4 separate regions of the Homo sapiens genome follow, and all the other regions are linked to region 1. Evidence: fine-mapped expression QTL. A gene starts in region 1. Each other region holds a variant in brackets. All regions are shown on one strand. Distances are between the middles of the regions.

Region 1 (6,181 bases):
GCAACAGTCTGGGCCCAGCTGAAGGCGGTGTTCCTGGAAGGTGTGGATGGGTCCAATGATGCGACTGATATGAGTTATGTCTTTACAGCTTTAATCTAGCAGGCCAGAGATGTGGCCAGTGGGGCAGCCAGAGAGGAGGGCTACTGCCAGCTGCTGACGGAACCTCCTCCCTCCCCCCACCCCAGCCCAGAGGGGACAAACAGTAGGGCCCCAGCCTTCCTGGCTGGGATCTTGGGAGCAGAGGGACTATTTGAAAACAGGCACTGTGACCCAGGCTGTCATCTCCCTCCCTTGCCCCCAGTAAAAATAGCCCATAATTCCAAGCCCTCCCCCCAACCCCTCATAGTTCTAGTTCAGCTCCTGTTCCACTTCCCTGGGGCTCTGTCCCCAGTAGGGCCCAGGGCTTGGCTTGGTCTGGGGCCTGGTGGCTGGAGGACTCCTGCCACCCCCAGGACCAGATGCAGGTACAGGATGAGGGCATCTCCCAAGGTTGGCATCACTGAAGGGGCAGCAGAGACATGGCTGGTTCCTCAGGCTCCCGGGTAAGAGGGCTGTGGTGGCATATAGGGAGGAGGAGCTGAAAGCCAAAGAGACAGGATGAGGGTGAGTGGTGGCATAGGTGGACGAAAAGTAACACCCCTGCCCCCGGGGCAGACAGGACCCATAGGGAAGAGTGGGCCTGGAGGTTTCGGGCTAGAGGTGGAGGAAGTCTGGGAGAGGGAATCTGAGAATGAGAGAGGCACAGGGGAGGTCGCAGGGCAAGGGGTGGGGGAAGGCAGCAGCAAGGGGCTCCAGATTGCTTACTTACCTGCAGGGTTGTAGACTGGGGGCCCAGCTGGGTAGAGTGGATATTGGGGAGCAGGACCACTAGGTGGGTATATGAAGCCAGGCTGTGGGGGTGCAGGGCCAGCTTTGGGGTCCTGGGGGTATGGGTATACTGGCTGCACTGGGATGCCTGTCATTGGAATCTCCTGGCCTAGATGGGGGAGAAGGATCAGCATTCAGAGACCCATCTCCTATGGGAAGCCTCCTCCTCCTGCCCAGGAAACCAAGGTAAGCACCCTGGTGCTGGCCTCTGGCAAGCTCCAGGCTGGCCATCTTTGCCTCCCACACCCTGCTTGGCAGAGTTAAGCAGGGAGCTGTGCACGTGGCCCCAGCTGGTCAATCTGTGTTGAGCAAGTTTGCTCCCCTCAGCAGGTTTCAGAGACCTCATGAACCAGGGAGCACAGCCCAGGGAATATCTCACTTGGGCAAGAAGGGGACAGCTCAGGGCTGGTATCCTGTAATCCAGCAGAGCTGCCACTAAGAGGGTCTTCTCCTAGCCCTTCCCTCCCACACTGATCTCCCGTATGGCATCACTGTCCCCATGTCCATCAGGTTGTGGCATATGTGCATCACATGCCAACACTCAGGCACATATTTTGCCATCCACTGGAGCACACTCAATTAATGTTCATCACTACAGACCTGACCCCGTGTACTTACTAAGAGTCATATGTATGCATACACCCACTGCACCCACTATTGTTGACAGACTGCACTCCTGTACACATTTGAATCTTCATGTGTATGCACAGAAATGCACACAAAGTCTGATGTTCCATATATCCCAGGCACATTCTAATATTCACGGGTTTACAAGCATTTTTCTGGGTTTTCATGCTGGCAGGTGTGTGTATACAGAAGCACATACTACTACAGAATTTACCCAATCCATGAACTCTCTGCTGCCCATTATTGGACTTAGCCCAGCCCATCTGAGGCCCTTCTTGCCCAGTACTGGGTGTACCTTCAAATGGGCTCTGGAGCTGCTGGCGCCGGCGGTACAGGTAGCAACAGGAACAGAGGAAGCAGCAGATGGTGGTGGCAACCACAGCAACAAAGAGGATCACAGCTGAGGCGATGCCTGCTATGGTCTTGGGGCTTTAGACAAAGAACAGGTCCTCTCACCTTCCAACACTCATAGGACGGAGTCCTCATTATGCTGGCTCCAACTCCTGGCCAGCAGGGGGGCCATGGCATGCTGAGATTTGGGGTTCCTTGTGGGGCTCTGCCCAGTCCCTGTGAAGGAGATCTTAGAGGACCTCCACTTCCCAGAAGGCTATGCTGCCTGGCTGGCTAGTGTGAAGCATACGGGGATTTGCAGTGCGCCCCCAACCATTGCTTTTATATCTACAACTTAAATGATTAGACATACAGCATAACACTGAAAGGAGCCTTAGAAATAATCTAGAGCCATTTTTTCCAAACCCCGCTTCAATCAGAAGTCTCTATATCTATTTTATATATGATATATTAAAAAAAAGTTTGACAACCACTAATTTGGCAAGCAATGACCCATAGAAGGCAAGTGTCTTCTCCAAGATCACACAGCTAGTAAGAAGTGGACCTGGGAATCAAACCCAAGTCTCCTGCCTTTGTGCCAGAGCTTCTTCCACAAAGCTACACTGTCGTCCGGGTGTTAACCTTGAACCCTCCCTCCCCATGACCTGGCAGGACCAAAGGGAGGGCTCCAGAAAGAACCTGGAAACCCCGGGCCCAGTCAAAGCCTATGAAGGTAACTAACATGCCTTTTCTGGAACTCCCAGGCACCAGCACCTAAGCACCTAGCTCTGCCGCCAGGCTTGAGTCCTGGTGACTCTATTCAGCTAAGAATGTGGAGGTCGACAACGGAGGAGGCAGGAGTCCGGGAGGGAGGAAGAGGAGGCCTCTGGAGAAAAGGATAGAGGAGGTGGTGAGGGTGAGGAGGCAGGAACCCACCTGAAGGCCAGGCAGTGCTTCTGCTGCCTCTCGGTGATAAGCAAGGTCAGGTCCCTGCAGCAGTACCGATGGTAGCAGGTCCCGCAGCAGAAGGTGAAGAACTCGCAGTTAAACCCCGGATGCCAGGAGCCATTCCGGTCCAGGTACCACAGGCAGTCCTCGCCGGCCAGCACTGCGGGCAGGGATTGGGGGTGCCCAGTGGCCACCAGGCCAGTTCATCCCCAGCCGCGCTCGGCCCCACTCCCCCGGCGGTCCCCAGCCTGACGGCTCCCGAACACTGAGGGTTGCCCCTTGTCTCCACCCTGAGGGTCTCAGCCCCAGAGCCCCCGAGGCCTCTGCCTGAAGCTGACCCTGCACCCCGGGATCAGCCTCCCATGGCCCAGCATCCTGGAGCTCCCTCTTCCCGCTTCTTGAGGACCCAGCAACACCCAAGGCTCCCGTGGCAGCCGGAGGGTCTCGGAGAAGCCCCGAGCCCAAGCCCCTCGGATCGGTCCCTCCCCTTCCTCCGCCCCCATCCCACTCCTGCCGCATCTCTCCCCATCCCCTTACCCAGGGGAGCCCCCAGCACCAACAGAGCGATTGCGGTGAGCGGCGCGGCCCGGCGGAGCCCCGCGGGTGGCATGGTGGGGGCTGGGCGCGGCCGGGGTCGGGCCTCCCAGAGAAGGGACCGCAGGACCAAGCCGGCCAGCTGGAGCTGCGGCGGGGCCCAGCCCGCGGCCAGGCTCGGGCTCCTCTTCCGCCTCCTCTGGGGGTGGGACTAAGCGCCCCGCCCGCGCTAACCCAGCCGGCGCGGCTCCGCGCAGCGCCCAGGAGTCCACCCACCAGCGACGCCCACCTAGCCTCTGGAGCTGGGTGCCCCTCACCCAGCAGAGCACTGCCCTGCTCCCCCTGTCCCCGGCTCCGCGGTGGTTCCTCCCATCCGAGCCACCATGGGCACTGCGGGCAGTTGGGCACTGCGGCCAGGGAAGCCTGGCTGTGTCCTGGACCCGCCCCCGGCCTGGGCCCAATCACTATGCTGGACTCCAGAAGCCCTGATCCTGGTGCCACCTCCGAATGCCCAGACACATGGGCCAACCCTGGAGGAGCAGGGCTGGACCTTCACTTGTGGGGGACCTCCTCTGCCGCGTCCAGCCTGGGACATCCTGTCGGGGGCGGAGAGGGAAAGAGGCTGGATGTCACCCCGCCCCCATTCCCAGAACACAAGCACTCATTGAGAGGCATTCAGAGTGGCTTTGTCCCCAGCGGTGCCCACAGGCCTGAACCCTGCCAGCTGCACTGGCTCCCTACGATGGACCCTTCCCCCTTCAAGTGGACAGAGCTGGCATGCACCAGCCCATGGCCTCACTAGCAGGGAAGGCAGGCTGCTGGGGCCACCTGGGGCCCATCCAGTTAAACACTCTTCACAGTGAAAGCCCTTCACAGAGCAAGCCTGTACTGCAATAGCCACCGGAGCATAGGGAGGGCAACAGTTAATTTCAGGTGGGCAACAGTTAATTCCAGGTGGAGACAGTGTTTTAGGATGGGAGAGGTCAGTCTTCACAGGTTTATACTGAGTGCCAGTGACTATGCCCCATGCTACATGAGGTACCCTCCGAGGAACTGCAAATTAAGCCAGGGAGATCATCAAAAGCCTACCTTAATCCCCTGCCATGTACACCCTTTCACACACTTCTGGGCTTCCACATCTACCTCACTGGAATCTTTCCACAACTCCATGAACTAAGCAAGGTTCATCAGTGTTATCAATCGCATTTCACAGACTGAGAAACTAGGACTCATGGAGGTTAAAGAACTTGTTCAAGGTAATACAGCCAGTAAATGGTAGAGGCATCAGGAAGACCCAAATCTAAATCAGGGTTGATCCCCAGCCGCAACAGCAGACAGTGTAGACAGTGAGTATTTCTTGTGTTCTGGGGTGAGAGAATCAGGACAGGTCCATGGAAGGCCCAGTAGAATCTTAGTAGGTTAGGGAAGGACAGCCGAAAGAGGAGCTACCCCATCCTGGGCCCCTGTGGGTGCTGGCACACCTACCCAAGAGAGCTGGAATAGGAGAGGATAGGCTCCTGCCCCAGAAAGTTGCTGGTAGCCTGATGGGCAAGAGTATGTCCTCACGCAGGACACAGTCATAAATGCAGCAGCAGGGACAAAGAGAAACGCCTCTGAATCCAGCACCACCTACTCAGTGTGCCCATTGCCATCCATCTCCTCTTTCCTACACTAAAAGCTCCATGACTGCAGGGACCACGTGGCTGTGTTCAATGTGGCCATCCAGCCCTAGCCATCAGTGTTGTCATTGTTGGTTGAATCATCTTCAGATAAGGGACTGTCTTTCCTGCCCAGAGCTGAATCTCCCATGTGTACCCTTGACCCCTGCTGATTTGTCTCTTCATTATCCCATCTCTTTAGTGTCTTTAGCTTCTCACACCTTACCAGCTTCTTTTCCCTAGGAAATCTCAAGTCTCTCCTATTTAAAGCAAAGCAAAGCAAAGCAAACCAAACCAAACCACATCCTTCCTAAAACTCATCCCTCTCTAGCTACTTTCCTGCTTTTTTCTCCAACTAGCCTTCCTCAAAGTGTATACCCCTAGTTGACACGCCCTCCTCAAAGTGTATACCCCTAGTTGACACTTCCAGCTTGCAATGACACCTAGCACGCACCAACATCATCAGTGATTTTCTAATTGCAAAATTCTAAGAATGTGTTTCAGTTCATGGGATGGGAGGTGACTAGACTAGGACAGAGAGTGAAGAGAGGGGGCTGTGGGCCAACCAGAGGGGAGAACTGGCTGCACTGGGAGAACTGGCACTTCTTACCTTGACAAGGGATGCTGGAGCTCGGAGATGGAGAGCTGGGGCTAGCTTATGTCGCCATAATGAACCTGGGTCTTGAAAGAGTCTGTAGATTGGCCAGGAGTGAGGAGGGGCTTGGGTGGGAGGACTGGGGGCCCTGGAAGAAGTTGTCTAAATCTTCAGGCCTGGAAGGGCTTCACTACACCTTCTCTAGGTAAGGGCAGGCAGGAATACCCCCCGCTCACCAAGCTGGTCTCTTAATCCCCAGCAAGGGAAAGAAACGCTTTCCTGGAAAAGAGGAGGCAGAGTAATTTGTGATCAGATGAGACAAAACATAGGCTTTGCCAGTAGGAGGTTCTCCTCAGGGTGTCTGGAATATGATGGTAATGATACCACCAGCAGCGAACATTGCTGATGAGCTCATCCCATTGTACAGATGAGGAAACTGAAGTTGGAAGAACTTCAATTCCCCCAGCTCACACTGCTGGGATTTGCAGTTGGACTTTTGTGGCTTCAAAGCCCAGGCCCTTCAGCTTCACCACCTGCTTCTCTTTAAACAAGTCTAAAGGGCCAGGCACGGTGGCTCACGCTTGTAATCCCAACACTTTGGGAGGCCAAGGCAGGCAGATCA
Region 2 (4,791 bases), 69 kb after region 1:
ACAGCAGAGACCTTAAGGCAGTGATTTCAGCACCATCCTTGGACACACAGCCTCTTCCCACCACAGAATTGCATATGTTACAGCTGAGTTGGTTAGGGATCTTCACAGCTCATGGAATTAGCAGCAATAGCAATAATAGTCTCCATCATACAGAACCCTGTCATCCATGGGAGCTTACCACGTGGATGCAGAAGCTTTTGTGAGGGGCAGCCCGGACCATCTTTTGGACTTAATATACCGATATGAAGATTCAGATGCATCTACTCCTCGGTTGGGTGGAAGAGTGATCCAGGTTGGTATGCCTATAGATTCTGATAAAGTCTTGTGCTACTTAGGAATCTGAAGAGCAAACACTTAGGCCGGTGCTCATCACATATCCTTGACCTGCAGAGTCCTGAAGCTTCAGCCTACTAGGCAGCTCAGCCTAGAAGCTGGTCCCGCGGGGCTTTCAGAAATGGCAGGAAGTAGACTTGCCCATTCCTGACAAGCAAGATTCCATAGTCCTTCAGGCTCCATCTTAATTGATCCCAGATCTTCTGCCCCCAATGTATTGTACATCTAATCAAAAGCTTCTTTCTAGCTGGCTCCTTGGGTTTCAGCTACATTTCTTAGATGATCCCGAAGGTCTAGATAACAAGGGGGCGTAGCTGAATGGAGGTTAACATTTCCTGCTGGACTGTAAACTTAAGGGCCCAGGTCTTGTGTGTGTGTGTGTGTGTGTGTGTGTGTGTGTGTGTGTGTGTGTGTCTGTTTTAACCTAATGATTTGTATATAGTGAGTACTCAGTAAGTACTTGTCAAATGAAAGAACAGGGATTGCCAGACCTTCAAGGCAATGGGAAAGGAGCAAATCTGCAAAGGTAGGATCTCTTTGGAAGGCAGGTATTGGCCACCAAGTCAAACTCCTTGAGTCTTATATTCTGATTGGGATGATCTCACATGGATGTTCATCTCTTATATGTGAATACTCATTTGTGAAAAATAGTAAGAGCCAGCTAGGATATTTGGATTCAGTCAGGCACCATCAGAATAGTGCAGTGAAAGGCCAAACTGGCCACAAGACAGAGGAATGTTTTCAGTTTTCTGGTTTTCCTCTGGTCCATGATAAAGCTCGGAGTAACTCTTCTATCAAGATGGGGCTATACCTTCTCATGACAGAGGCTGGCAATTGAGCTACCCAGCAGAACGTGTGCTCTCAAAAGGGAAGTCAAGGGAACTGGGTTCCTCTTCTCCCTCTACTTCTGAGCCAATGCTTCATGTCTCATATAAGCCCCATGGATGCCAAAGATAGTGGCATGGCAGGTGTCATGCCAATTGCATGGCATCAGATTCTCCAAAGAAAACCCACTTGGAAAAGCCAAACTAGCCCCTGGAAAAGCAACCCAAGCATCTCGTGGACATGTGAGGAAATGGAAAAACGGAAAAAGAAAAAAAAAAGGGAAACAAAAAAATAAATAGGCAAATGGGAGAAAAAAATGAAAACAAAATAAAAACCAAAAATAAAAAAGTAGGGTTTATTGACTCTTATGCATTGTTAAATTAGAGGGTAGAAAGACAGAGCTGGTAGTCTTTCCCTGAAGGCTGTAAGGTTATTTTTGTGGTTTGGTGACTTCTCAGGTTGGCAGCCGTCTTGTTGATGTCCCCTATGTCATCCAGAGGGCAGGAGCGGGCAGCTCTCTACCTTGGCAACTGGTTCCTCTCTCTCCAGCTTCATCTTTTCCATTGTTTTTTGTTTGTTTGCTTGTTTTTGTTTTTCATTTTTACCTTTTACAGATTGATTTAAACATTTTTTAAACCACATGCTTCTTTTTCTGGGCTCCAGCCAGATCTCTGGGGGAGGAGTTGTTGGCAGTGGTGATGGAATTGGGAAGGGTCTGTGAGAAAATCTGAGGAGCTTCCTGCCTCCCCCAGATCTCCCTCACAAGACTGTCTCTCTCAGGGTTGCTTGTGAGAATCATTTAGGAACTGCTGCAGTGTTTTGATGTTTTCTGAACCCCTCCCCAGAAAGCCCAGGAGTTTGTAATTGAAACAAGAAGTCAAGGGAAAGACCCAGAATCATCTTTTCCCCAAAGTCATTAGAGGAGGCCAGTAAATGTGTTTAGGGGGCACAAGTTCCCAAACGCCACCCCACCATTCCTTCCTAGGAAGTTCTCAAAGGTACAGCACCAAGAACCTGTCCCTCCTCTTTCATCTCCTCCTCCCTCCTGTTCTCCTCCTGGGGCTGGAGAGCCAGTGCTCTGAAAGAGGAGAGGGGAGAGGAGGAGCTAAGATAGCTGATGCCAGCGTTCTGCTGTCCGGGGGTGACAGTGATTGCCGAACCCTTAAAGTGTTGCCTGAAGGTTGGGGTCCAGGATGGTTTCTCGATCTGGAGACTCAATGTAGTTGGCAGCTTCTTGAAGTTTCAGCAGCATGGCCATCTAAAGGGGGGCAAAAAGATGGATTTATGAGAGTTGGGACTCTGGGTCCTGCCCACAGAAGGGAAACAACAACAACAAAATCCCAACACTTTGGGAGGCCAAGGTGGAAGGATAGCTTGAAGCCAGGAGTTTGCAATCAGCTTTGAAAACAAAGAGAGACCCTGACTCTACCAAAAAATAAAAATAAAACAATAAAAAACTGGCCAGGCGTGGTGGCACACAACTACAGTCCCAGCTACTCAGGATGCCAAAGCCCAAGTGGGAGGATGACTCGAGCCTATGAGCCTAGGAGTTTGAGGCAGCAGTGAGCTTTGATATCATCACTGCATTCCAGCCTGGATGAAAGAGCAAGACTCTGTCTCCAAAAAAAAAAAAAAAAAAATCTAGATCATGGGTCTGATCCTTGGTTTCTCAGTGATGAAGAGCTCAGAGTTTAGAGTGGTTTGTGAAAAGGCAATGAGGATTTCTTCAATGATAACTGTGACACA[T/C]GTGTATGTACAACAATTACTTGGGAGTATGCCTGCTATACAAGGGACAAGGTACCATTTATGGAGGAATACCAAAAAAGAATGAGACCACTTCTGCCTGCAGGGTGCTTGCACTCCAGGAGAGGAGGGAAGGCCTGAACATACCAACGAATACTGGGAGGAATGTGAGAAATGCTATAAAATAACAATTTCCCCTTCCAATAGAGTATAAACCAGCAGCTAGACACTGTATTATTATGAACCTATTTCTCTCCAGCTTACCAACCGTGTTGCTTCATGTCAAGTCTAAATACCTCTATGTACTCACTTCCTTCTCTTTACTTACTTTTTTCTCTGGACACGTCAAGATTGGTACTTCCATTTCAGCTAAGTAAGCCTGGTGCATTTTCTGTTGAATCTGCTCTCCACAATTCTCTTCTGTCTACGTGATTATTAATAAGCTTCCAATTTAAAAGCATTTTTATACAGATAGCATCTGTTTTTAACAAAGTCAAAATTTTAATAAAAATGTATTATGATTATTGGAAGAATTTCCTATGGGAAAGATAGAATTGTAAGGTCACAGGATTTGCGCATGTTAAGTTTTAATATAATCTGCCAAATTATCTTCCAAAATGGTTTTATCAACAACCACTCCCACCAGCGGAGTATAAAAGTCTATGCTTCCATACATACTACTTTTGCCAATGTGAAGTGGTATCTCTTGTTTTAATTTGCATTTCCTCAATTATTGGAGAGGCAGAGGATCCTTTTATGTTTTTATTGGCCATTTGCATTTGCTCTAGCCAAATGTCTACTCATATCTTTTTTTTTTTTTTTTGAGAGGGAGTCTCGCTCTGTCGCCAGGCTGGAGTGTGCAGTGGCGTGATCTCGGCTCACTGCAAGCTCCACCTCCCGGGTCCAAGTGATTCTCCTTCCTCAGCCTCCCAAGTAGCTGGGACTACAGGTGCCTGCCACCACGCCTGGCTAATTTTTTGTATTTTTAGTAGAGACGGGGTTTCACCATGTTGGCCAGGATGGTCTCAATCTCTTGACCTCATGATCCGCCCGCCTTGGCCTCTCAAAGTGCTTGGATTACAGGTGTGAGCCACCACGCCTGGCCTTCATATCTTTCTCCTAAGAGATGGGGTCTTGCTTTGTCACCTGGGCTGGAGTGCAGTGGTGTAATCACGGCTCACTGTAGCCTCAACTTCCCAGGCTCAAGCAATCTCCCACCTCAGCCTCCTGAGTAGTTGTGACTGTAGGCATGTGCCATCACACCCAGCTAATTTTTTTGTTTTTCTAGAGATGGGGTCTCAGTATGTTGCCCAGGTTGGTCTTGCACTCCTGGCCTCAAGCCATCCTCCTCCTGTCTCAGCCTCCCAAACTGCTGGAATTACAGGTGTGAGCCACTGTGCCCAGCTGTTTATATCTTTTATCCATTCTTCTGTTTGGAAATTTTAGATATTTTAGATACCAGTCTTTTTCTGGCTACAGGCATTGCAGATATTCCCCCAGTTTGTACTTGGCTTAGCCTGCTTTCTACAGGAGTTCCATGAACTCATTTAGCTGAAGTAGTCTTCAGGATAGCGTCAGAGGAGAAGCAGAAGTAGAGAGAGTGCTAGTGTGCCCTACTGCTCTACTTCTTTGGTTGATATTCCTACATCATGAGATCTACCTGAGACTTGGGTCTTTGCTAGAATACATCTTGCTGGGATGCACTATTATTTAGCTTAAGCCAGGTCTCAGGCATATGATCTTTATAACCCCAGATTCTGATATTTAGAGCTCCTCACTGGCCTTAGCCTGGTCCTGGCTTTGCTAGTGCTCACTCTTTACTCTCCAGGCCCCCATCAGTGTATGTATGAAAAGTGTGAAGAATTCAGGGTTTTTTTTTAACTTATTTTT
Region 3 (6,181 bases), 43 kb after region 1:
TACTGAACAAGTCAATAAAGATAGATTAGCTAACATTTAAACTATACCAAAAGCTCCTTTGATGCAGACACTACTATCATCTTAATTTTATATAAAAGGAAACTCAGGCTCAAAGAAGGTAAGTGAAGGATCAAGGTGAAGCCACTACAAAAATCCAAAATCTGAATACTCCATCACTATGCTAATACTGTATCTGTAAGTGGTAGGTTTGGGAGTAGAAGTAATACTATACAAACTTAATTCCCTAGAAAAAAACAATAGAGCTGGAGGGTAGATGGAGAGATAAAAACTAGGAGGGAGGAATAACATCAGCAGCAATTCCTACTGGTCCAGGCCATTATATCACATAGCTTCTGGTAATACTCCTGTCGCTTGAGATCCAAGTACCAATACCAGGGAAAAGGGCTTCTGGTACCTGTCAGCACACGCATGGCTCCATGGACGGCATTTAAGTCTCCGCTCACCAACATCTCCATGAGCAGGTTGAAGAGTTGGGGCCAAGCTTCAGGCCAGTCCCAGTGGGCAATGGCTGACACTGCATAGGCCACACTGGAGCGCACTTTGCTTATCGATTCTCTCAACCCATTAGGCAATAGCTCCCGGATAACAATTTTTGCCTGTAAGGGATAAAAGTCCACCTGCTATTAGATCAGGTTAAAAGTGACTGGCAGAGCCCAGTTCAATTGGGAACTGTGTTGGAAAAACAATGAGTACAAGGTACTGCATGTCTACAGAAAACTCCTATACACAAACTTGACAATTCATTTGGAGGGTTCATCTGTGATCTCTAAACTTATGCAGTCCATTACAGTAGCCACTAGCTATACATAGCTATTAACATTTTAAAAAATTTAAAATTCAGTTCCTCAGTTGCACTAGCCCCATTTTAAGTGCTCAACAGCCATATGCAGCTAGTAGCTATTGTTTTAGGCAGCACAGACACAGAATATTTCCATAATTGCATAAAGCTCCAGTGGAAAACATTCCTCCAGACCTTATACCTCAAAATTTCTTGGGGACTCAGGATGACTGCACAGTACTGCACTAAGTACAAATGTTATTTCATTTAATTCTTAAACCCTTAGTTGGTATTTTTATTCTCACTTTGGAGATTTAGGAAATTGAGGCTTAGGTGTTAACTACATTTCCAATGATCTCATAGCTTGTAAAAAGCAAAACTGGAATTTGAACACAGACCAGCCTGATACTTGAGCTCTTTAATGTATAGCCCTATGCCCGCAATGCCAGCCACCAATCTCCTTTTCTGCCTAGTCTTTTGATTGCTCCATGCTGTCAAAGAATGTTATAGTCTAATCTCTTAAAATGGACCCTCAAATCTCCTCAGGTAGACTAATCAAGTAACTGACTTACCCTTTCTGTAGTTTCAGGAGGCCTAAATTTCTCTGATTGGGCACACCAGTGAGTCTCCACATATTGTTTCAAGATGACTGATGCCAGCTGTGAAGAGAATAAGCCAAGTAGTACAGCAAGAAAAAGATTTTTTTCACACATAAAAACTATATACATAGCCTGATACATCTGAAGTATATCTAAATCTGGCACAACATCCTAGGTTATTTATACACTGGCCTTATTTTTCTTTCCTATAAGAAAGTTTCATTACCAAGGAAAGGGAAACTATTTATAAATTGGGCCAGTCTGGACTTACCTGACGGATTGCCAGTGCCCCCTGGGGATCTACAGTCAGTTCTGCCAAGTGAACACCAAATTCTGAAAGAGAAAATTTTATTGAGTCTAAGAGTACCTAGGAAAGCCATAGAAATTTACTAAGCTCTAACCCTGATGCCAACAAGATTCCAGAAAGAAACTTAATCTGTTGTTTCAAAAAGAGCTGATAACTGCTAAGACTGATTCCTCCAAGTAAAAGAAACAAGTTGGCTTGCAGGACATGCCTTGTTACAATGAAGTTTCAACACCCTTACACTTTTTCCAGTCACTGCATAGCACCTTCCAGCCATCTTCTCTTCCAAGATGACAACACCTTCCTCTTAGACCAATTAATGTGGTAATTGAAACATGGAGCCTGGCGTGGTGGCTCACGCCTGTAATCCCAGCACTTTGGGAGGTCGAGGTGGGTGGATCACTTGAGGTCAGGAGTTTGAGATCACCTTGGCCAACATGGTGAAACCCCATCTCTACTAAAAATACAAAATTAGCCAGGCTTGGTGATGCATGGCTGTAATCCCAGCTACTCGGGAGGCAGAGGCAGGAGAATCGCTTGAACCCAGGAGGACGAGGTTGCAGTGAGCTGAGATCGCACCATTGTACTCCAGCCTGGGAGACAAGAGCAAAACTCTATCTCAAAAAAGCAAAACAGGCTGGGCGCAGTGGCTCATGCCTATAATCCTAGCACTTTGGGAGGCCAAGGCAGGTGGATCACAAGGTCAGGAGTTTAAGACCAGCCTGGCCAAGATGGTGAAAACCCCGTCTCTACTAAAAACACAAAAAAATTAGTCAGGCATGGTAGCGGGCACCTGTAATCCCAGCTACTTGGGAGGCTGAAGCAGAGAATTGTTTGAACCTGGGAGGCAGAGGTTGCAGTGAGCTGAGATCGTGCCACTGCATTTCAGCCTGGGCTACAGAGCGAGACTCCGTCTCAAAAAACAAACAAACAAAACAAAACAAAAACAAAATATCATGGGACCATCTATTCCTGAGGACAACTTAAAAGGTGAGATTTCACGAGTTGTCCAGATATATGCCACCAGTTATGAGCTGATTAAGTCCAAGAAAACCTGGCTTCAACAAACTTAGTCCTACAAATGAGTAGTTTCCAATAAGCAATGGAACTTGAACTGCACATTGGGAGGCTGTAAGTAACTCTTACTTCCAAATTAAAATTTATTTTTAAAAAATGATTACTAAAATAAATTTTGTTTTAGAGACAGGGTCTCACTCTGTCATCCAGGCTGGAGTGCAGTGGCATAGTAATAGCTCACTGCAGTGTCAAACTCCTAGGCTCAAATGTACTTCCTGCTTCAGTCTCCCGAGTAGCTGAGACTACAGATGCACGCCACTGTGCCTGGCTCCAAATTAGAACTTAGATCTAATATATACTTGCAAAGGAGTCAACTGTCAAATATTTCTTTGTGAAAAGAGGAG[G/C]AAGAATGTAAAACCAACAGTGCATCATAATTTTTACATCTCACATTGTAGGGCTGTGCTATCCAATGCAGTAGCTATTAGTCACAATGGCTACTAAGTACCTGTAATGTGGCTGGTGAGACTTGAGATGCCTATAAATGTAATACTCACTAGATTTCAAACAGTGTGAAAAAAAGAGGAAAATATCTTTTTATATTGATCAAATGTTGCAATAATACTTTGTCTATATCAGGTTAAATGAATATAGAGTTAAAATTTAATTTTATGTTTCTTTTTGCCTTTTTAATGTAGCCACTAGAAAATTTAAAATTTCACACATGACTCATACTATATTTCTGTTGTACAGCACTATGCTAAAGAATGAACAGCAGTTTTCTAGACTTGCTTACTACTGGTAGATACATAGGTCACAATAGGCTCATCACTTCCCTTTGGAGGGAGCTATGGATTGGTGTGATTAAGAGAACAGGCTGTTTAGGTTCAAATCCTGAAGCCACCATGCCTGTCATTAGGTAAGTTTCCTTTCTAAACCTCAGCTTCCTCACCCACAAAATAAGAATATTGGTATCAGGGCCGGGAAAGGTGGCTCACGCCTGTAATCCCAGAACTTTGAGAGGTGGGAGTGGGCGGATCACCTGAGGTCTGGAGTTCGAGTCCAGCCTGACCAACATGGAGAAATCCCGTCTCTACTAAAAATACAAAATTAGCCGGATATGGTGGCACATGCCTGTAATCCCAGCTACTCGAGAGGCTGAGGCAGGAGAATTAATTGAACCCAGGAGGCAGAGGTTGCGATGAGCCGAGATTGCGCCATTGCACTCCAGCCTGGGCAACAAGAGGGAAACTCTGTACGCCCCCCCCTCCCAAAAAAAATACTGGTATCAATATATCAAGCAATCCTTTTAAGACTGAATAATATAATATATGTAAAATGCTTTGTACAATATCTGCCATACTGGTAAAAACTTGAAAACAAAAATAAGTTATTTTGCTATTATTTTTTATTGTCTATCATGAATACACTGTTTGGCTTTCCCATCTATGTTCCACCTTAATTGGATTCTACTGAAATAGCCATCCAAAGGGCATTTATACAATAGAAAAGCTTAATACCAAGAAAGAGTTGTTACATGCAATGTTTCAGGTTCAGGGCTTATCCAAGTAACCAGGTTAATAACTGCTAAAAATGATCTATGTCCATATTTTACAAAATAATTTTTAAAGACTTACAGAAAAGCTGAACAGTACAGAGTTCATGGATATCATTCATCCATTTTCCTCTTACATAACCACGGTTCAGTGATCAAAAATCAGGAAATTAACATGGGTATAATACTATTAACTAAACTAGACTTGATAAGAACTTCACCAGTTTTTTTCCTTATTGTCCTTTTTCCTTCAGGATCCCACATTGTATCTGGTTGCCATGTCTCCTTAGTTTCTTCTAAAGTGTGACAGGTCTTCATTTTTGTCTTTTGTGACCAGAACACTTCTGGTGAATATCGATCAGTTATTTTGTAGAACGTGTCTCAATTTGGGTTTGACTAAAGTTTCCTCATGTTTTAGATTGAGGTTATACATTTTTGGCAAGAATACCAGAAAGTGATGCTGTGTCCTTCTCAGTATATCATATTAGGGAGTACATAATGTTGATAAAAATTTTATTACTGGTTATGGTAACCTTGATCACATGGCAAGGTCTGCTGGGTTTCTCTACTTATAGGTACTGTTTTTCCCTTTGTAACTGATCCAAATCTAGGGAGAAATATTTTGACATTTTGCTATTATCCTGTTTCTTTTCAAAGTCTCACCCACTGATTTTAGCATCCATCTGTGGGTGTTACCTGCCTAATGGTGATTTTGCATTTCTTTTATTCTCTTCACTTTATTAATTGGAATTCTTTTATAAGGAAGTACTGTCCCTTCTCCTTTATTTATTACAATATTATAAAATATATATTTTGGTTTTCATCCATGATTCCTGGTTCTCAGCTCCTGTAAGCCTTATTCTTTCCTAACTGACTACAGTAATAAGAATATCTTTTTTTTTTTTTTTTTTGAGACAGAATCGCACTCTGTCACCCAGACTAGAGTGCAGTGGCGCTATCTCAGTTCACTGCAACCTCTGTCTCCTGGGTTCAAGCGATTCTTGTGCCTCAGCCTCTGGAATAGCTGGAATTGCAGGAGTGTACCACCACGCCCAGCTAATTTTTGTATTTTTCGTAGAGACTGGGTTTTGCCATGTTGGCCAGGCTGGTCTTGAACTCTTGACCTCAAGTCTGCCTGCCTCAGCCTCCCAAAGTGCTGGGATTACAGGTGTGGGCCACCACACCCGACCAAGAATATATTTTCTTAAAAAGTATTTGGCTTTTGTCCTTGGTTCCTGAAGTAGCTCCTGAAGGATAAAGGTGAAAGACAGTCTCTTCTTACTTACAAGATACTTCTTTCTGTCTTTTTTCCCGCACATCACCTCAACTTTCCTTTTCTTTTTTTTTCCCCCATTCCCCTACCTGATGCAATGGTCTTAGGACCAGGGCTGCAACTACATGTGCTGGAAGCAGGAATGATTCCTAGGCAAGAAATTCTAACTACGTATTGTAACTTAGGTCAGAATTCCTAATGGACTGATGGGAATGGGTTGTGCCTTCACCCCATCCAGCAAAATTGGGGCTAACAGTTAATACAGCTATATTGCCTGACAGTAAAAATAGCCCACTAGTTCTGCACCTCTGTAACCTAACCCTATCTGAAGGGGGTGCACTGAGGAAGAGGTACTTGCTAGACTAGTATTGTTGCCTGCAATCTAGACCATCACAGTGGCTGATTGTAATGCTCCTTCCAAAGGTGGAAAAGTTTGGGTACTTATTAAGAGAGAAGAAACAGTAGCTCAGAGGAAAGAAATGAATAAGTGGATTATGAACTGAGAGGATTCCAATATCACATTAACACCTCAAAAGAGGCTCAGAGCAAGAGATGACATTGCTTCTTAGCTCAATTATATCAAACTCATGAAATGGTAAAGTTCTGTGTTTGCTAAGACTACTTCTGCTTTTGCAAC
Region 4 (6,181 bases), 35 kb after region 1:
GGTGGGAGGACTGCTTGAGCCCAGGAGTTTGAGACCAGCCTGGGCAACATAGTGAGACCCCACCTCTACAAAAAATAAAAAAGTCAACTGGGCATGGTGGCATATGCCTGTGGTCTCAGCTACTCGGGAGGCTGAGGCAGGAGGATGGCTTGAGCCTGGGAGGTCAAGGCTGCCGTGAGCTTTGTCTACACCACTGCACTCCAGCCTGAGCAAAACAGCAAGACCCTGTCCCAAAAAGCAAACAAAACAAAACAACAACAACAACAAAAACTGAAACAAAAACTCTAGCTTAAAAAAATCTTTTCTTTTTGATGTAGAGAAATAAATACTATTAAGTAGCAAGGTAGGTAGCAATGGCTATTGCTCTCTTTTAGAATCTGGCTGATTACTAGCTCTCTGCCAATGTCAACCTGCTGTTACCCTTTGATAGATCGATTTTCTGAATAGATTAAGTCTGATAGACTATTTATTGTGAAAATTATGTCAATTCTTGTGCTGTTTTAAACGAGGCGTTATCTAATTTTTGAACGTTCTTTGCTGCTTTTGATGACCCACCATCAGGCTAATGGTCTGATTATTACATTTTACTTTAGGGAAGGAACAGATTCTCCTAAAAATCAGTGTCTTAGGTTAGTGGTCCTGTGAGATTTTCTAATGGCAAAAGTGGGCCAGGCACAGTCACTCATGCCTGTAATCCCAGCACTTTGAGAGGCCAAGGTGGGTGGATTGCTTGAGCCCAGGAGTTAGAGACTACTAGCCTGGGCAACATAGTATAGTACTTTGCTGGGAAAAAAAAAAAAAAAAAAAGCCAGGTATGGTGGTGAACTCCAAAACCTTGGATTTGGCAATAAAATGATGTCAAACCTTTCCCAGAACTTCACATGAAATTATTCTTTTTGTGTCTATTTTTAGAAATAAAGTGTTCACCTGACCAAGACCTCATATTCTTCAAGTTGCACTTTCCAAATACAAGATGGTAACTGTCTCTCAAATATTATTTACCTGCTCCTCAGTGATTTGCATGTACAGGATAATATAATAAATCAATTCAGGCAAGGCTTTCTTAACAGTGCTTTTGAATTTGCTATTTTCTAGTAGAGCATGGACAAATTCAAAAATGCTAAAGACGAGATTTTCAAAGCCCAGGACTTCACCTGCAGGAAATACAGAAGAGAAGAAATTAATGACAAGAAAGCAAAAGGAAAGCATATATGCAGAAAATGAACTACATAACCTTTGTAAATTACTGAATATTTAAAGTACTTGCTAATGATCATTCCTGAGGAATTGGGAGAGAGGGCTCAGAGGTCACAAAACGTAATTTTGAGGATATTAAATATTCTTTGGTTTTTCAAGTAAAAGAATCAGAAACACTGGATATATTTTCCAGTATGTCTATTGTTCTAATCTGAAATAATGAGAAATGTTAAAACAGAAACGAAAGATTCATGATCTGGGACCCCCAAATGAAACACAACAAAATGCCAGAAGTAGGCTAGATTAAATGGCCTTAAAAGTATCTCTTCCAATGCAGAAATTCTATGATTTTATGAGATTTATGCAACTACCTATGTGGAACAGATTAAAGATTGTCAATTCTCATTTCCCCACATCGAATACATCGAAAATAAACTGAATTAGAAAACACTTAATAGAGTGAAGCCTCTCAAGTTACTGTTTCCCGCCCCCATCTCTGGCTTCTTTTTCTTTTCCCACTAACTGGTATTTCTATAAAGATCAAATAAACTACATACCATCAGAATCCACAGGATCTTCTACTTCTTCTGTGTAATTTACTTCTGTCCTCACATAAGTATGATGAAGAGTAAAGAAATAGAATTTGGAGTCTGCTTTACATATAATCTACATGGAAATGTTACATATTCCAACACTAAAAGTAGACACCTTAAAAAAGCCTGTGTAAGAAGAGTGGAACCATATGAATGTGAAACCCAGTGCGAGATTCCTAACTATAGGTGGTAGTAGCTCCCTTAAACTTTCAAGAAAGGATATAAAGCTGCACTCTCGGTTAGGGTGTTCCAAACAATAGGCAGAATCTGCTGCATGGAGGACACCATGTGCTTTGGGAAGTTTTTCACTAGGGCTGTCACTGCCTAAGAAGTTAAGAGAAAAGGACCCAAGTTATGAGTGATATATAAGAAATAAATGATTTCAGACCAGCCCCTCAAACTCCAAATATTTCATTGGTAGTAAGTGTTTACCTTTAGGACCTCCATCTTAAACCCACTGTCAGATGTGGGGCCATCTGGTATCTGGAGGGCCTGAACAAAGGCCTCTGTGAACTGCTGTACCACGGGAAAGATCAGGACTTTGGCTGCACCCTGATAACAGAAACCAAAGTCAATACTGGACAAACCCCTAATCCATGGCTTCAACACATATATATCAAACACTGATATTTGAAAGGCACCTAAAGCTCTCTTCAGGCTCCAAGCCTGATCAGAAGAGAATAGCTATAAAGTCAATGAAGGTGTTACCTAAGATTTCATTTTTCCTTAACCAGCACTTGCAGTTCTTCATCAAAGCCCTCTTAAAAACTATTATGTAAGACCAACTTTCCTCCTAACTGCTTCTGAATCACAGGGATTGGTATTTTTCAGCTAGCTTTGCTTCACACAAGAGGGCCATAAAAGAGTAGGAAAGTTCTAAGGGATGACTACTATGAAAAGGATATAGGATAAGGTGTTTGAAGAAGTAAGACTCAAAAGAAGACTAAGCTTTTTACAAGTTGAAAATTCAATCAGGCCAGGTGTGGTGGCTCACACCTATAATCCTAGCACTTTGGGAGGCCAAGGTGGGAGGATCACTTGAGCCAAGGAGTTCAAGATGAGCCTGGGCAACATAGGGAGAGACCCCGTCTCTACAAATATAAATTCATTAGGCTGGGCATGGTGGCTCATGCCTGTAATCCCAGCACTTTGGGAGGCCGAGGTGGGTGGATCACGAGGTCAAGATATTGAGACCATCCTGGCCAACATGGTGAAACCCTGTCTCTACTGCAAAACAAAAATTAGCTGGGCATGATGGCGCGTGCCTGTAGTCCCAGCTACTCGGGAGGCTGAGGCAGAAGAATCACTTGAACCTGGGA[G/A]GCGGACGTTGCAGTGAGCTGAGATTGCACCACTGCACTCTAGCCTGGTGACAGAGCGAGACTCCATCTCTAAATAAATAAATAAATTCATTCGTTCACTCATTCATTCATTAGCCAGGAGTGGTAGCACATGCTGGTGATCTCACCTACTCGGGAGGCTGAGGTGAGAGGATTGCTTGAACCTGGGAGGTTGAGGCTGCAGTGAGCTATGATCATGCCACTGCATTCCAGCCTGGGTGACAGAGCAAGATCTTGTCTCAAAAAAAACCCAAATAAATAAAAAAAATACAAATATAGCTGAGTGTTGTGGTTCATGCTTATAACCCCAGCACTTTGGGAGGCTGAGGGGGGAAGACTGCTTGAGCCCAGAAGTTCAAGACCAGCCTGGGCAATACAGTGAGACCCTATCTCTACAAACATTTAAAAAAGAAAATCAGCCAAGTGTGGTGGTGCACACCACACCTGTAGTTCCTACTGGGGGTCAGGGGATCACTTAAGCCCAGGAGTTCAAGGCTGTAGTGAGCCATGATTGCACCACTGTAGTCCAGCCTGGGTGACAGAGCAAGACCCTGTCTGGAAAAATAACAACAATAATTTAATAAAAATGTTAAATCTATCTCTAATACTGGTTAGTGTGCTTTTTCGTGCTGCTATCATGAAATGACTCACTGCTCTGCATGAATAAAACTTTTAAGCATGAAGTCTGTTATTGATCCAAAGACCTGCTTACCTTTTCCAGCTCCTCCATGTTACAGATCATATGGGCACAAGTGGTAAAAATCTCCACGGCTCGGGAACGGGTTCGAATACCATACACCTGGAAGAAAGGTTACAGCATAACAGCATAGCCACGAGACTGGAGTGTGTAGGTATGTGTGTATCTCAGACTAGAAGTAAAACTATGACTAATGAATCCTCACATGAGATTGGATGCCCTCGAGAAATGGGAAATGTAATTCATTTATGTCCAGGAGGCAGACTTCTGTAATTCAGAGAATGAAAGGTAGCAGAATCATAATGTTGGAACTTACTGGAATGAACCTTATATAAGGGCCTCTGTGGGTTCATTTGATTAAAAAATACCAGACTAGGTAGTGCTTAAAATCCCAACACAGCCAATATATTTCCTTTAAAATGCAGACCATTGGTTGGGGGCAGAGGGGAATAGGGAAGTTAAAACATTATCCATCAGGTATTTATACCTTACTATAAATGAGTTATCATTCATATACACACTAATCAAATATATATGCAATATATTAAGGGTCTATTATGTGCAATGCAGTGATAGATTGCTTCCCATTACTTAGCTGAGGTAGGCAAGCGTAGGTGGGATAACTCAGTAAGAGGCTGGAAGTAGCATGAAGGAAGGCACTATTTATCTACTTAGGGGCTACTGGATGCCAGGAAGTACGATATGTGAAGAAATATTTCAGCTATTTCACACTTTTATCAAAGGCTTGCCCTTGTAGTTGAGTGAAAGGTCTAAGGTTAATGCAGATTCAGATCCAGATCTTTGTCAGTTCTAGTTTTTAGGTATTGAGATCAGTTGCAAACACCATAATCTCCCACCTGAAAGGCTGGGGGCTGAAGAGAGCCTGAACTCACTATAATCTTGGAGCTGAGATTTCATACCTCAGCCATGGTGAAGATCTTATACATCTCTGGGAGAATGACAGGAGCAACAAGTGGCATCTGTGTGTCTGTTACTTCACGAGTGAATTCTACAAAGAAAAAAGTAGTACTGTTAAAAAAAAAATACTGCTTCATAAAGATATTAAGTGTGATATTTTCTGAACTGCTTCTAGGTGGCAGTTCCCAAACAGACAGCACACAGGTAAAGACACTGGCCTGGTGGTCTCATTCTGTGAAAGCAAAAGTAGCAAGAGTTACTGATTATTTGTTAGAAGGAGAAAGAATAATATGGAAATAAAGAAAAATACAAGAGATTAAAAAAGAAAACTTTAATATAAATACTGAAAGAAAATCTGTAATAGAACTGCATAAAAGTCCTTGTGAGGTCAACTTGGGAAAATTCTGTATTAATTTATCTTGTGCCCATCTGTCAACATTCAGTTACACTTCGAGGTTTCTTACCTTTGCTTCTGTTTTCAGTACTTTCGCTTGGCAAGCTGGTTTGATGCATGTAATAAAATATGTACAGACTTACTAGGCCTCAACTCCTCTTTGTATATGTTACTCTTCTCAGATTTTATTGACCTAAAAGTCAGAGGCTGCTGCTAACTGGAACAAATGGGAATTTTCTATATAAATGTGACAAAAAGCAACCTATACACAGAATGAGACTCGAAGGTGACGGAAATATGGGTCGTATCTTTCCCTTCACGTCTCAAAAAAAAAAAAACCAAATACACCACACACAAGGCACTGAGACAGCACAAAGGACCCTGGATTCATGTTACAAAGCAGCAGAATAAAGCTCTTGAGTTCCAGTAACTATCCACTTTACCTGATGCTTTTCCACGTTATCACTATAGAAATGGACATATGGGCCGGGAACAGTGGCTTATACCTGTAATCCCAGAGCTTTGGGAGGTTGAGGCAGGAGGATCACTTGAGGCCAGGAGTTCAAGACCAGCTTGAACATAGCAAGATCTGCCAGTACATTTAAAAAAAAAAAAAAAAAAGCTGCATGTGGTGGCATGTGTCTGCAGTCCCAGCTACTTAGGATGCTGAGGCAGGAGGCTCGCTTGAGCCCAGGAGGTCAAGGTTACAGTGAGCTACAACAGTGCCACTGTACCTGAGCCTGGGTGACAGAGTGAGACCATGTCTCAAATAAATAAATAAATAAATAAAACTAAAAATAAAGCTAACCACTTGGGACATTTTGGGGGAAGATACACAGCTACAAACGCAAGCTGGCATTTTCAAGATTAAGGTACTCCACAATTTTGAACAATATCAATCCCCACGAGTCAAATGAAGATCAAATACTCAAGGTTGAATTTTCTTTACAGCTGTAATTTCCTCCTCAAGGATAAAGTCTGAGCTTTGAATGGTGAGTGTTCTATTTTATTTAGAAATTCAAGGAAATTAGTCCAAACAAATATG

Direction of the effects. Positions count from the first base shown, and alleles are read on the strand shown. Sizes are in standard deviations (SD) of each study's normalised expression. Not every link is listed here.
As copies of C replace G in region 3, the expression in prefrontal cortex of the gene that starts at base 3,479 in region 1 goes down (small effect, 0.34 SD a copy in BrainSeq).
In carriers of allele A in region 4, the expression in putamen of the gene that starts at base 3,479 in region 1 tends to be lower than with G alone (moderate effect, 0.42 SD a copy in GTEx).

What was found. PIP is the estimated chance that this variant, and not a neighbour inherited with it, causes the effect. A credible set is the group of variants that fine-mapping cannot tell apart.
Region 2: its variant is the best candidate, but not a certain one, in a credible set for the expression of SHISA4 in whole blood (TOPMed, PIP 0.71).
Region 3: its variant is the best candidate, but not a certain one, in a credible set for the expression of SHISA4 in prefrontal cortex (BrainSeq, PIP 0.67).
Region 4: its variant is the best candidate, but not a certain one, in a credible set for the expression of SHISA4 in putamen (GTEx, PIP 0.52).

The regions. Positions count from the first base shown.
Region 1 is chr1:201,886,196-201,892,376 of GRCh38, reverse strand. SHISA4 (shisa family member 4) reads right to left here and starts at 3,479. Exons shown (of 5, transcript NM_198149.3): 1 at 3,310-3,479; 2 at 2,761-2,932; 3 at 1,790-1,923; 4 at 809-976; 5 at 1-577. The coding sequence starts at 3,382. The coding sequence ends at 531. RefSeq lists enhancers at 3,342-3,636, 3,477-3,986.
Region 2 is chr1:201,817,462-201,822,252 of GRCh38, reverse strand. It overlaps NAV1 (neuron navigator 1), which reads right to left. Exons shown (of 34, transcript NM_001389617.1): 34 at 1-2,416. The coding sequence ends at 2,321. All of the region lies in intron 1 of IPO9-AS1 (IPO9 antisense RNA 1), which reads left to right. Among named protein-coding and RNA genes, the nearest start is that of IPO9, 9.3 kb to the left of the region's middle. The variant T/C (reference allele first, on the strand shown) is at 2,905.
Region 3 is chr1:201,842,829-201,849,009 of GRCh38, reverse strand. It overlaps IPO9 (importin 9), which reads right to left. Exons shown (of 24, transcript NM_018085.5): 2 at 1,670-1,731; 3 at 1,372-1,458; 4 at 416-617. Among named protein-coding and RNA genes, the nearest start is that of IPO9-AS1, 16 kb to the right of the region's middle. The variant G/C (reference allele first, on the strand shown) is at 3,124.
Region 4 is chr1:201,850,756-201,856,936 of GRCh38, reverse strand. It overlaps IPO9 (importin 9), which reads right to left. Exons shown (of 24, transcript NM_018085.5): 5 at 4,745-4,833; 6 at 3,840-3,926; 7 at 2,223-2,342; 8 at 2,014-2,114; 9 at 1,755-1,813; 10 at 1,003-1,154. Among named protein-coding and RNA genes, the nearest start is that of MIR6739, 9.5 kb to the left of the region's middle. RefSeq lists an enhancer at 2,162-2,456. The variant G/A (reference allele first, on the strand shown) is at 3,110.